Linked DNA regions of Homo sapiens. The protein of the gene in region 2 interacts with the protein of the main gene of each other region in a biochemical or structural test. Each region holds a gene or a part of one and is shown on either strand. Other genes may lie near its edges. The genes, in order: FBXO8, POLI and POFUT3.

Region 1 (3,656 bases), on a different chromosome or scaffold from region 2:
TACTCCAAAATGGTTCAGCAAAACAGTAACGTCTATGTCTATACAGATGGAACAATAAGGTGATGTGGCAAAATATTAAAAATTTGTAAACCTGGCTAAAAAGTATTCAAGGGTTATTTTTATTCCTCTAACAATTTTTTTGTAACTACAAATCTCCTAGTTGTGGAATCCAGGCATGTAAATTTGAAAAAGATGTGTGTTTGAGTTTATGTACTCAGTTTAAGAATTATTATTATTATTATTACCTTAGGGCTCAGTGTAATACAGACTGAAGACCATTACTAAAGAAATAGTGGTCCAGAGAGGTTAAGCAAATTTGCCTGAGAAGTCAAAGCTGGAAAAATGGAAGATTTAGGATTCAAACTCAGTTCTATCTGAGTCCAAAGCTTTTATTCTTAACCCACAAACCATATTCCCAGAACCGCTGGAGCCCATGGATGACAAAAGCAATTTACCATCTGTTTCTTCACCACTGGTTCTCATCTCTTTTTACCCCGTCACTGTTTATTACCTCCATCGTTGGTCCCAGCTGCAGCTGCTCTTTCAGGCTACTGCTGTTCTTGTGGAAAGCACACAGGCTTTGATGTGAAGAAAGATCAGCATCAAACCCCAACACGGAATCTGATTAGCCTGTGATTTCTGATCCTCATTCTTCTCATTAGTAAAATAACGGATAATAATTCTTATTCCATGGGACTTAGTAGGGATAACATTTATGGAACTTAACCCATAGTAGGTAGTTTACAATAAAAGGTAGTTTCGTACTCATCCCTCTCGCCCTCTTTAAATGATAACTATTATTTTGGTTCCTTCATTTCAAATACACCTGATAACTGTGGATTAATTACCTGAGTAGTCATAATCCTGGTCCTGAATTTCATTAATTTGGGATCTGTGAAATTTGGAGAGATGCCATTTACATAGCAAGGCCATAGTTCCAACACGCACTAGTTTCAGTTAACATGGTAAAATGCAAAATGATGACTGTAAGTACTAAAATAAGGAACTGACTCCACACAATAGGTTACATGAATAAACCCAGTATCAAACACAGTGCCTTGGCATATAAAGTGCTCAGAAAATATTTGTTGAATGAATAAACGATTAGTAAGCACTGATTTTAAAAAAAATGAATTACATGAACCTTGACCTAAACCTTACACCTTTTACAAAAATTAACTCAAAATGGACCATAGACTTAAACGTAAAACATAAAACTATAAAAATTTTAGAAAAATACATAGAAGGAAATCTTTGGGGTCTAAGGCTAGGCCAAGAATTCCCAGACTTATATCAAAAGGATGATCATGAAAGTAAAAATTGATCGAATTCATCAAAATAAAAAATTTTTGCTCTTTGAAAGTCTATATTTGGAAGATGAAAGGAAAGCCTACAGATTGAGAGAAAATATTTGTAAACCACATATCTGACGGACGAGTATCTAGAATATATAAACAACTCTCAAAACAATAGTAAACAAAAACCAAACAATCCAATATAAAAATGGGCAAAAGATATAAACACACGTTTCATGAAAGAGGATATACAAATGGCAAATAAGCACATGGTAAGATGGTCAACATCATTAGCCAGGAGAGAGGTGCGTACGGTTATAAAAGCACAGTGTGAGAGATCCCTGTGGTGTTACAACTATTTACTATCTTGACTATGGTGCTGGATATGTGAACTTGCACAGAACTTCATACACACACATATGTACACTGAGTAAAAATAAAACTAGGGGAATATGAGTAAGATGGGGGATTGTATCAATGTCAAAATCCTGGTTTTGATAGTATATTATAGTTACAAAACTATTACCAATCAGAGAAACTAGGTAAAGTGTACAAGGGATGACTCTATATTTCTTGAGACTGCATGTACATCTACAATTATCTTAAAAAATCATAGAAGGATGGAAAAAAACAAAAAAAGTTTAAAAAAGGATAGGCAACTGCACATTTAAAGTGAATGAATTTTATTGTATGTAAATGATACCTTAATAAAGATGTTTTATAAAAAGGAATTAGAAACTCTAATGAATGCTTTAAAGAGGGTGAGCAAAGACATGGGAAGTCTACCATCATTTCACAAATAGTAACTATTTTAGATTTTGGGAATCCAACTAATTGTGAAAAATCTACAACCTATGAATCATCTCTCACTTCAGGTAAATTTGAATACATATGGATCAAAAGAAGATGGAATTAAGGAATACAAATCCTTATAGACACAAATCCTAAATGATGTTTTGACCACTTACATAGGATATATAAACAACAGAGTAAGGTACAAATGCAAAAAGGATCGATATTTGTGTAACTCTTAGTCTAATAAAAAAGACAATGTACATATAAAATACATTAATTAGAAAATTGGTATAATTACTTATTTAAAAACAAAGTAATAAGCTATATGAATTAATTTGGATTGCTACAAATATTATATTTCTAATATCTGTAGAAAAATGCTTCTACTTATTAAAATACATTAAAATTGGTAAATTTTATTTAGAATCTCCTATATTCTTATATGCCCTTGTTTCCATTAAAATAACAATAGCAATATTAACAGTAATACTTTTATTACATATTGACCAAATATTTATTTGACAGAGCCAACTTGTTTTTTCTGAGTTGGAGTCTTGCTCTGTTGCCCAGGCTGGAGTGCAGTGGAACAATCTCGGCTCACTGCAACCTCTGCCTCCTGGGTTCAAGCGATTCTCCTGCCTCAGTCTCCCGAGTAGCTGGGACTACAGGCGCGCACCGCCATGCCTGGCTAATTTTTGTATTTTTAGTAGAGACGGAGTTTCACTATATTGGCCAGGCTGGTCTTGAACTCCTGACTATGTGATCCGCCTGCCTCGGCCTCCCAGAGTGCTAGGATTACAGGCATGAGCCACTGTGACTGCCTGACAGAGCCAATTTTTAAAAAAAATTTAAATATATTTAGATTTTGTTTTGTTTTGTTTTTTTGAGAGGGAGTCTCGCTCTGTCAACAGACTGGAGTGCAGTGGCGTGTAGATCTTTGGTTTTTAAAAATTAATTTGTCCACTTTCAGTTTTATTATGCTAATTTCAGCATAAATAAATAAAACTGAAATCTCTAAAGTGGGCTATATACTATAATCTCTGTTTTACAGTAATGTAGAAGTTTTTTGACACTACTACTGTGGAGGATGAATTTAAAGGTGGAGCTCCAATTACGCTGTAACTTGCTGTGTGACCTTAGGTATTTCAAACAAGGTTCTGATCTTTTGTTTCCTATAAAATGGGGGAAATCATTCCTATCTATTTTACAGGGTGGCTATGAGCCTTAACTAAGAGAATGTATATAAAAGCATCTTTTAATTGGTAAAGCAGTATGTAGTTTCTGAAACAGCTATATTGTTCTGACATAATTTTGGATGTATTTTTTTTAAAGTAGCAGTTTTAGTCTAACCAAGTCTGTTACAACAGCATAAAAGCGCTTCCACTTAAAAGCAGTACAAACTATGGATTAACTACAAATAATTACACATTTATTAAAATTTATAAGAACAATAATAGTTTTCTATACTTTTTAACTTCTAGAAGATCGTTACATTTCTAAGAGATGGTATTTTTGACTACTATGTTTTGTTTCCTATTCAAAATAGTAGACTATTTCTTAAAAAGA
Region 2 (3,656 bases):
CAAGGTATTTTTTTTTTCTGTAATTACAGACTCCTCTTTTGGGCCCTATATAATTATATGTTTAATAAATGTATCTTGCTTATGAAGTTGATACCAAGAAAGAGGTTAACTTCAGGAATGGAGGCTGGGCATGGTGGCTTATGCCTGTAATCCCAACACTTTGGGAGGCTGTGGTGGGGTATCATTTGAGGTCAGTCTGGGCAATATAACATAGCAAGACCCTGTCTCTACAAAAGTTAAAAAAAAAAAAAGTTAGCTGGTAGCATGTGCCTGCAGTCCCAGAGGCCGAGGTAGGAGGATTGCTTGGGCCCAGGAGGTCAAGGCTGTACTGAGCTGTGGTGTGCTACTCCACTCCAGCCTGGGCAACAGTGAGACCCTGTCTCATTAAAACTACAGCAACAACAAAAACCTTCAGGGACGGGATAATTAGGGATTTGTCCTGTGACCTAAAATCAGTCAATATTTAGTGATCCACCAGCTTCGTGCATGATTCTGTATTTAACTTGCTTTTCTATTTAGTGCTTAAAGCCTTATCCTTTATTTTTCTTATGTAGTATTCTTTTGATAAACTCTTGTTTTCTACATGTTACTTTGCATATCAGGTATATACTTTTGAAAATAAATTGCCGAAATTGATGAAGGAAATGCAAAACAATCATTTTCTTTGATTAGACATATTGTCAGTCTGTCCTGAAAGGAGGTAATAGTTTTCTCTAGGTAATAGTTTTCTCAGGAGTGATTTTTGGTGTTTGCCATGTCACATTGTTACCTTTATTGGTTTCCCCTCACATTGTCAATGTTGACATCAACAAAACAAAAAAGCACCTTTGGTGTTTGTGAAAAAACATGATCTATGTGGAATGAGATAGTCCTTTTATTTCTGAGCTTCAGATTATATGACCTTAAGAATCTATGCATTTTTGTATACTAAGAGACTTGCATTTGTTTTCTCTTATCCAGCTGGTGTCAGTAGAAAGTGATTCAGAGGGAAGTGAAAAACTTTCTCAATGATTTTAAAGTTATTAGTCTCAATGTTAATATATGAAAATTGATAGTTTTTTTGAATTTATTTTGAATTTTGGTTCAGCTTAATCTAGTAAACATTTGACTTGAGGACTAGATATTGTGCTAGACGCTGGGCATTTGAATACCTGTAAGTTGTGGTTCATCTCTGCCTCTCTGTCCTAAGGAATATTCTTGGGAATGGCTAATAAAAATACCACGTTATAGTATATTTTGAAAGTTGACTGACTTTCTGTTTTATTCAGTAATAATTGGACATTTTAAATATTATTTTGTTTTGCCTCTTTTAAACTCTTGGAGAAAATATAGCTAAAATATACTATTACTTGTTTTTAACTTTCCTGAGCAGCCTATAGTTTATTCTTTGACACATTTCTTCAAGGTCACCAATTTACTATAAGCATTGATATTTAATGTACTACAGATATAAAAATTATAGGTGTAGAAGATTGAGCTAGATATATTGCCATGAATAACTGCCCTAGGAATGTCATTTTTAGACTTTTTTGAAAATATTGCCTTTATACAAGATGTGGTACAGAAAAAACGTCAATTAACTGAGGGCTTTATTAAAGATATTATGGAACTATGAATGTATATAAAACCTTTAACAATAAATTTGATAAATTTTTAAGCACTAGATAGTTAAATTTATCCTAGTTATAACTTCATTTACATTTGTGCTCCAATATTATTTCAATTTAGAATTACTGGAAGAATTTAGTCCAGTTGTTGAGAGACTTGGATTTGATGAAAATTTTGTGGATCTAACAGAAATGGTTGAGAAGAGACTACAGCAGCTGCAAAGTGATGAACTTTCTGCGGTGACTGTGTCGGGTCATGTATACAATAATCAGTGTGAGTGGGTTCTTATTCATTCTACCTACTAACCAAAAGTACATACATTTCTTAATGTTCAGTGAGTTCGCTGTGTGATTCTGAAAGATTCATGACTTTTGTTGGAGGTATAGTTATATTTAGTCAGTAATCTGTCTAGGACAGCTAAAATTAGGTGCTGCTATTCCATAATAAGTGTTAAGATTTTGATGACATGTAGCTCAATGCTCTGTGCACTTTTCATTTGCACAGAGCATTGTTCCTGTTCATCTGCACAGAGCATTCATCTGTGCAGAGTTTTCGTCTGACACAGTGCATTGGTTCCCATTTTAGAAAGCCATACCCAGCTGGGCACAGTGGAGCGCCCCTGTAGTCCCAGCTGTTTGGGAGACTGAGCTGAGAAGATTGCTTGAACCCAGGAGTTTGAGTCCAGCCTAGGCAACAGAGCAAGATCCCATCTCTTAAGGAAACAAAAAGCCATACCTCTGTAGGTCATTCTTAAGTTGTAAGAGTTGGCTTCTTAATATGCTTTTTGGAATAATTTTTTATTATTCTAAAACAATCTCTAAGCAGAGTTTTCAGGTAGGCTAGATTTGCCTTTGATGTGTCTTTTACATGTTCCCTTCGATTCCCCTTTGATGTGTGTTTTACATGTTCACTTCGATTCCCCTGAGACCCTCATGTTGCTCTCTGAATTCCCAAGTTAGCACTTTTGGAATGTTGTCCAGGGCTATCTGCCATGTGCTAGAATCTTCTCCAAGCTCCTATTTAATCTGTTCAAATAATCTTTGTCAAAGTTAGCAAGAAAGCAGAATGGTTTGTCTCCTTCATATATTGAGATATGAATGACTGATGGTGTTTCCAGTGATATTTACATTTGAAAATAAGCTGCAGTAAGCACCAGTGAATATCTGATTAGGCTTTCAGACATCTTATGACTCTGCTGGTGACTCCCCTATCATACCACATACAAGACAAGGTACTCTGCTGTTGTGTAAGACTTGTCTGACCCTTTTGCTCTTAAGCCTCCCCATGCATTTCCTCTTATCCTCTTTTTTGAGAACTAGACATCGGTCTACAGAATAGTTCTCCACAGAAGAAAAGCAGTAGAACCACAGTTTCTAGAATACATGGAGCTTTTCCTGTATCTTTTGTACTTGTGCTCATTTGTAACTTAAAAGGGCTAACTAGCAAGAATATTTCAAATATATTTCTGTATAATTTTTAAGGCAAACTTGGATTTTATTGGTTAGAGTACATTATAGAGAGCTAGGTTTTATATCCCAAAAAGGGAAATGTGGAATTATTGATTAATTCTTCCTCTTTCATACAGATTTTATTAAAATTTTTTGTAAACCTACAGAAAAGTTGACAGAATAGTACAAAAAATACCCATTATGTCTTTTCTTTTTTTTTTTTTTTTTTTGAGACAGAGTCTCACTCTGTCGCCCAGGCCGGAGTGCAGTGATGTGATCTCGGCTCACTGCAACCTCCACCTCCTGGGTTCAAGCAATTCTCCTGCTTCAGCCTCCCGACTAGCTGGGACTACAGGCATGTGCCACTACACCCGGCTAATTTTTTTATTTTTAGTAGAGACGGGGTTTCACCATGTTGGCCAGGCTGGTCTTGAACTCCTAATCTCAGATGATCCGCTTGCCTTGGCCTCCCAAAGTGCTGGGATTATAGGCATGAGCCACTACTCCTGGCCCATTATGTCCTTTCTTGTAGATAAACCAGTTGTTATCGTTTTGCCACATTTGCTTTCTCTTGTTCTCTCTATGGATTGCTTGGTTGGT
Region 3 (3,656 bases), on a different chromosome or scaffold from region 2:
TCTGACTGTACATACACCAGCGGAGCAAGTCTTTTTCTAAGCTTGTTTTTGGACTGCAAAGGAACTAGGTATCGGAGTGACTTCAGGACTTCAATGCTCTCCAAGTATTGGGTAGTTAGTGGCAAGTGGGAATGCCTGCTGAACGTGGCAGTGTAGTTGAACAAGGTGATCACTGGTTTATGAAAGAGCTTATAATTGTTTTTCGGGGACTCTTCATGAAAAACAGCCCAGTCATGATGGGCTTTCCGAGGCAGAGGTAAGCTATCTATGTTAAAGTCAGTACCTAGGAGAAGAAAATGAGATATTAATTAGTATTTCCAAAAGATGTTGCTAAGTTTGGGTCTACCTGGTAAGATTAGAATACAGAGGAGTCTGAGGCTATGAATAAGAAGCATGTGGCCGGGCACGGTGGCTCACGCCTGTAATCCCAGCACTTTGGGAGGCCAAGGCAGGTGGATCACTTGAGGTCAGGAGTTCGAGACCAGCCTGGCCAACATGGTGAAACCCTGTCTCTGCTAAAAATACAAAAATTAGCTGGGCATGGTGGCACATTGCCTGTAATCCCAGCTACCTGGGAAGCTGAGGCAGGAGAATCACTTGAACCCGGGAGGTGAAGATTGAGCCACTGCACTCCAGCCTGGGTGACAGAGCAAGACTCTGTCTCAAAATATATGTGTGTGTGTGTGTCATACACACACACACACACACACATGAAGCATGTTACAGTGTCACTGCAAAGTGCCTGGCAGTCAGTCACAAAGCTTTCACCCCAGAAACTACTGAGGGAGAGGATCACCAAAGAGGGGGACTATCATTTCTCATTTTACGAAAAAGGAAACAGGAGTCGTGTCTGGCCAGGTTCTAAAGGAGAATTTATTCCACTGCCTCTTGCAATGGGCTTTTCTTCCTGAAAAGTGTTACCTACAAGTAAATAGGAGAAATAAAGAGATAAAGACAGTTCTTTAAAAAGAAAAGAGCAAGAGAAAGGAAGCCAAAAAAGGAAAGCAACCAGGTCAGCAGGTTGATTAACTGCAAAAAAAAAAAAAAAAAAAAGTGAAACCATGCAAAAGTAGCCAGAAGAAATGTAGAAGATAGATTTTTTTAATCCAAAATGATTGATTTCAGCAAAGTGCAGTTAATCAATCTTAGTCAAAATGGTAGACAAGAGGCTTTTAAAGACGAAAGAGCTGATAATAGCACTATGTTACAGACCACTGCAGGATGGACAGGAATTAACAAGCTCATGGAGAAATAAAGAAGGCCTAACAGGATTACAATTATGAGTGACCCTAGCATCCACGGGATTAATTGAAAAACCTCTGAAACATGATGATGTGCAGACAGAAGTGATGGATGTGGTAAGCGATTGTTTCCTGGCTGCATGGGTGGAGATCCAATCAGGGAGAACTTATTTCAATAACTGAGAAAGAAGAACTAAGACAATAACACAATAGGTAATATACAATTTCTGAAGTATTCTTGACATGGATAATTTTGTAGACCCTTGAGTTTTTTTAAAATAAATATAAGGAAACGGGAAAAAATTCATCTTCCAATACCCACTGGAAAAGAAAATACCGAATATATATTTATGCCAAAATAAAACTTTATCAACATTTTCTGGCAGAGCTCATAAAAATTAATTATTTAATGCCAGTGTACACTCCCACAAATAAAGATAAACTCTTCAGTGCCAACACTACATCAATGAGAAATCAATTAATCAAGAAAGGCTTTTAAACAAAGATCAGATAAGGTTATGTCACAGGACATATACTAAGCACAGAGAAATTGCTGAAGAAAGTGCCTCTGTTTTGATAGCAGGCTTTTATTCTCAATCTTTGGCAATGACGTACTAACGTAAAAATGGGCTTGTCCTTGTTTATTGGCATTTGCTATATTTGACCTTAGGCTTAAAAAAGAACACTCACCCATATACCTGAAATCTAATGGCATATAAAGTTGGATGGCTGGCAAAGGTTAATAATCATTAAGATAGAGAAACATGAGGATATGAAAGAGAATGTGAGAAGAAAGGCAAATGACTGCATTGAAGTACAACAGCTGCTGCTCAAAAAGGGTCTAAGCTGGCTGAGAGGCCAATGATAGGAACCAGAACCTATATAATTGAGTTAGAACACAAAGTTGCCACCTAAGGCATACAGAGAATCAAGGCCATTTGCCTGGGAGAGAAAGTACTAGAGTCCAGTCCACAGGAATCAGAAGCAGGGATTCAAGGTGTGAGATGAGAGATTAAAGAGGATATGATTAAAACAAAAGTGGGTCCAGAATTAACTGGGGGGATCAGGCACAGGGGATTTGAGTGAGTGACCCAAACACCAGTCACTGTCTGCTGCTACCTGCTAGGTGGCACATGGAAGATTCTTAACCTAGCTCAGCATGGGTGCACCTCAGCAAAGATACCAGATGCAGAGCTGGGAAGCAGAAAGACACAAAGCCTGCCTCAGGTGCATTCAGATGAATGCTCTCCTGCATTCATCTGAATTATGTTTAGTCTGCAGGGGTGCAGCTGCCTTTAATAGTGGGAGATGCTTATTAATAGAGAGGAAAGTTAAAGGGACCTAGCCTTCCAGAAATATTTCCCATGTTTGCTATCTATAAAAGCATTTCCTGGTAACTTCCCTGAGATACATCCACACAAAACACAACCACACATGCGTGCGCATGTGTGCAATCACGCTAATATAGGTTTTCTGTAAGATTGTCAGATGCTTTCAAACTAAACTTCTCTGGAGAAGATTGAAAATAGGTCATTTTGGCATGGCACAATGGCTCACACCTATAATCCCAGCACTTTGGGAGGCCGAGGCAGGCAGATTACTTGAGGTCAGGAGTTCGAGACCAGCCTGGCCAACATGGTGAAACCCCATCTCTACTAAAAATACAAAAATTAGCCAGGCATGGTGGCACATGGTAGTAGTAATCCCAGCTACTCGGGAGGCTGAGGCAGAAGAATTGCATGAACTGGGGACGCAGAGGTTGCAGTGAGCCAAGATCACATCACGATACTTCAGCCTGGGTGACAGAGCGAGACTCTGTCTCAAAAAGTAAAAATAAATAAAATAAATAAAAACACGTCATTTTGCCCTGCAAGCATCTCTCCTAAGCCTAGAGCTTCAGACGGTAAGTGCTGAAGAATACTGAAATTAGAACCATGACCAACCTGGCCAGGCATGGTGGCTCACACCTGTAATCCCAGCACGTTGTGGGGCTGAGGTGGGTGGATCACCTGAGGTCAGGAGTTCAAGACCAGCCTGGCCAACATGGTGAAACCCCGTTTCTACTAAAAATTCAAAAATTAGCTGGGCATGGTGGTGCATGCCTATAATCCCAGCTACTCAATGCTGAGAAGGAGAATCGCTTGAACCTGGGAGGCAGAGGTTTCAGTGACCCAAGATTGCACCACTGCATTCCCTCCTGGGCGACAGAGTGAGACTCTGTCTCAAAAACAAAACAAAACAAAACAAAAAAAGAACCATGACCAACCTAAACTACTTCACTGGGGATATCATGGCCTAGAACATAAGTGTCAATATTGAACAATTTCTAAAAGGTATTGGATGTGGCTCAGAAAAAAACTGAGTTATTTAGCTCTCCCCAACTCCATCGCAATGCCTACTGTAACAAGAGTTGGA

The links.
Region 1: the proteins of POLI (region 2) and FBXO8 form a complex in vitro, tested with the Homo sapiens proteins (one large-scale study listed by BioGRID).
Region 3: the proteins of POLI (region 2) and POFUT3 form a complex in vitro, tested with the Homo sapiens proteins (one large-scale study listed by BioGRID).

Annotation. Positions count from the first base shown.
Region 1 is NC_000004.12:174,273,623-174,277,278, forward strand, and holds part of FBXO8 (F-box only protein 8), read right to left. Parts: intron 1-3,656. UniProt on the Homo sapiens protein: May promote guanine-nucleotide exchange on an ARF. Promotes the activation of ARF through replacement of GDP with GTP.
Region 2 is NC_000018.10:54,275,975-54,279,630, forward strand, and holds part of POLI (DNA polymerase iota isoform a (long)), read left to right. Parts: intron 1-1,728; coding exon 1,729-1,881; intron 1,882-3,656. UniProt on the Homo sapiens protein: Error-prone DNA polymerase specifically involved in DNA repair. Plays an important role in translesion synthesis, where the normal high-fidelity DNA polymerases cannot proceed and DNA synthesis stalls. Favors Hoogsteen base-pairing in the active site.
Region 3 is NC_000008.11:33,389,516-33,393,171, forward strand, and holds part of POFUT3 (GDP-fucose protein O-fucosyltransferase 3), read right to left. Parts: intron 284-3,656; coding exon 1-283. UniProt on the Homo sapiens protein: Protein O-fucosyltransferase that specifically catalyzes O-fucosylation of serine or threonine residues in EMI domains of target proteins, such as MMRN1, MMRN2 and EMID1. Attaches fucose through an O-glycosidic linkage.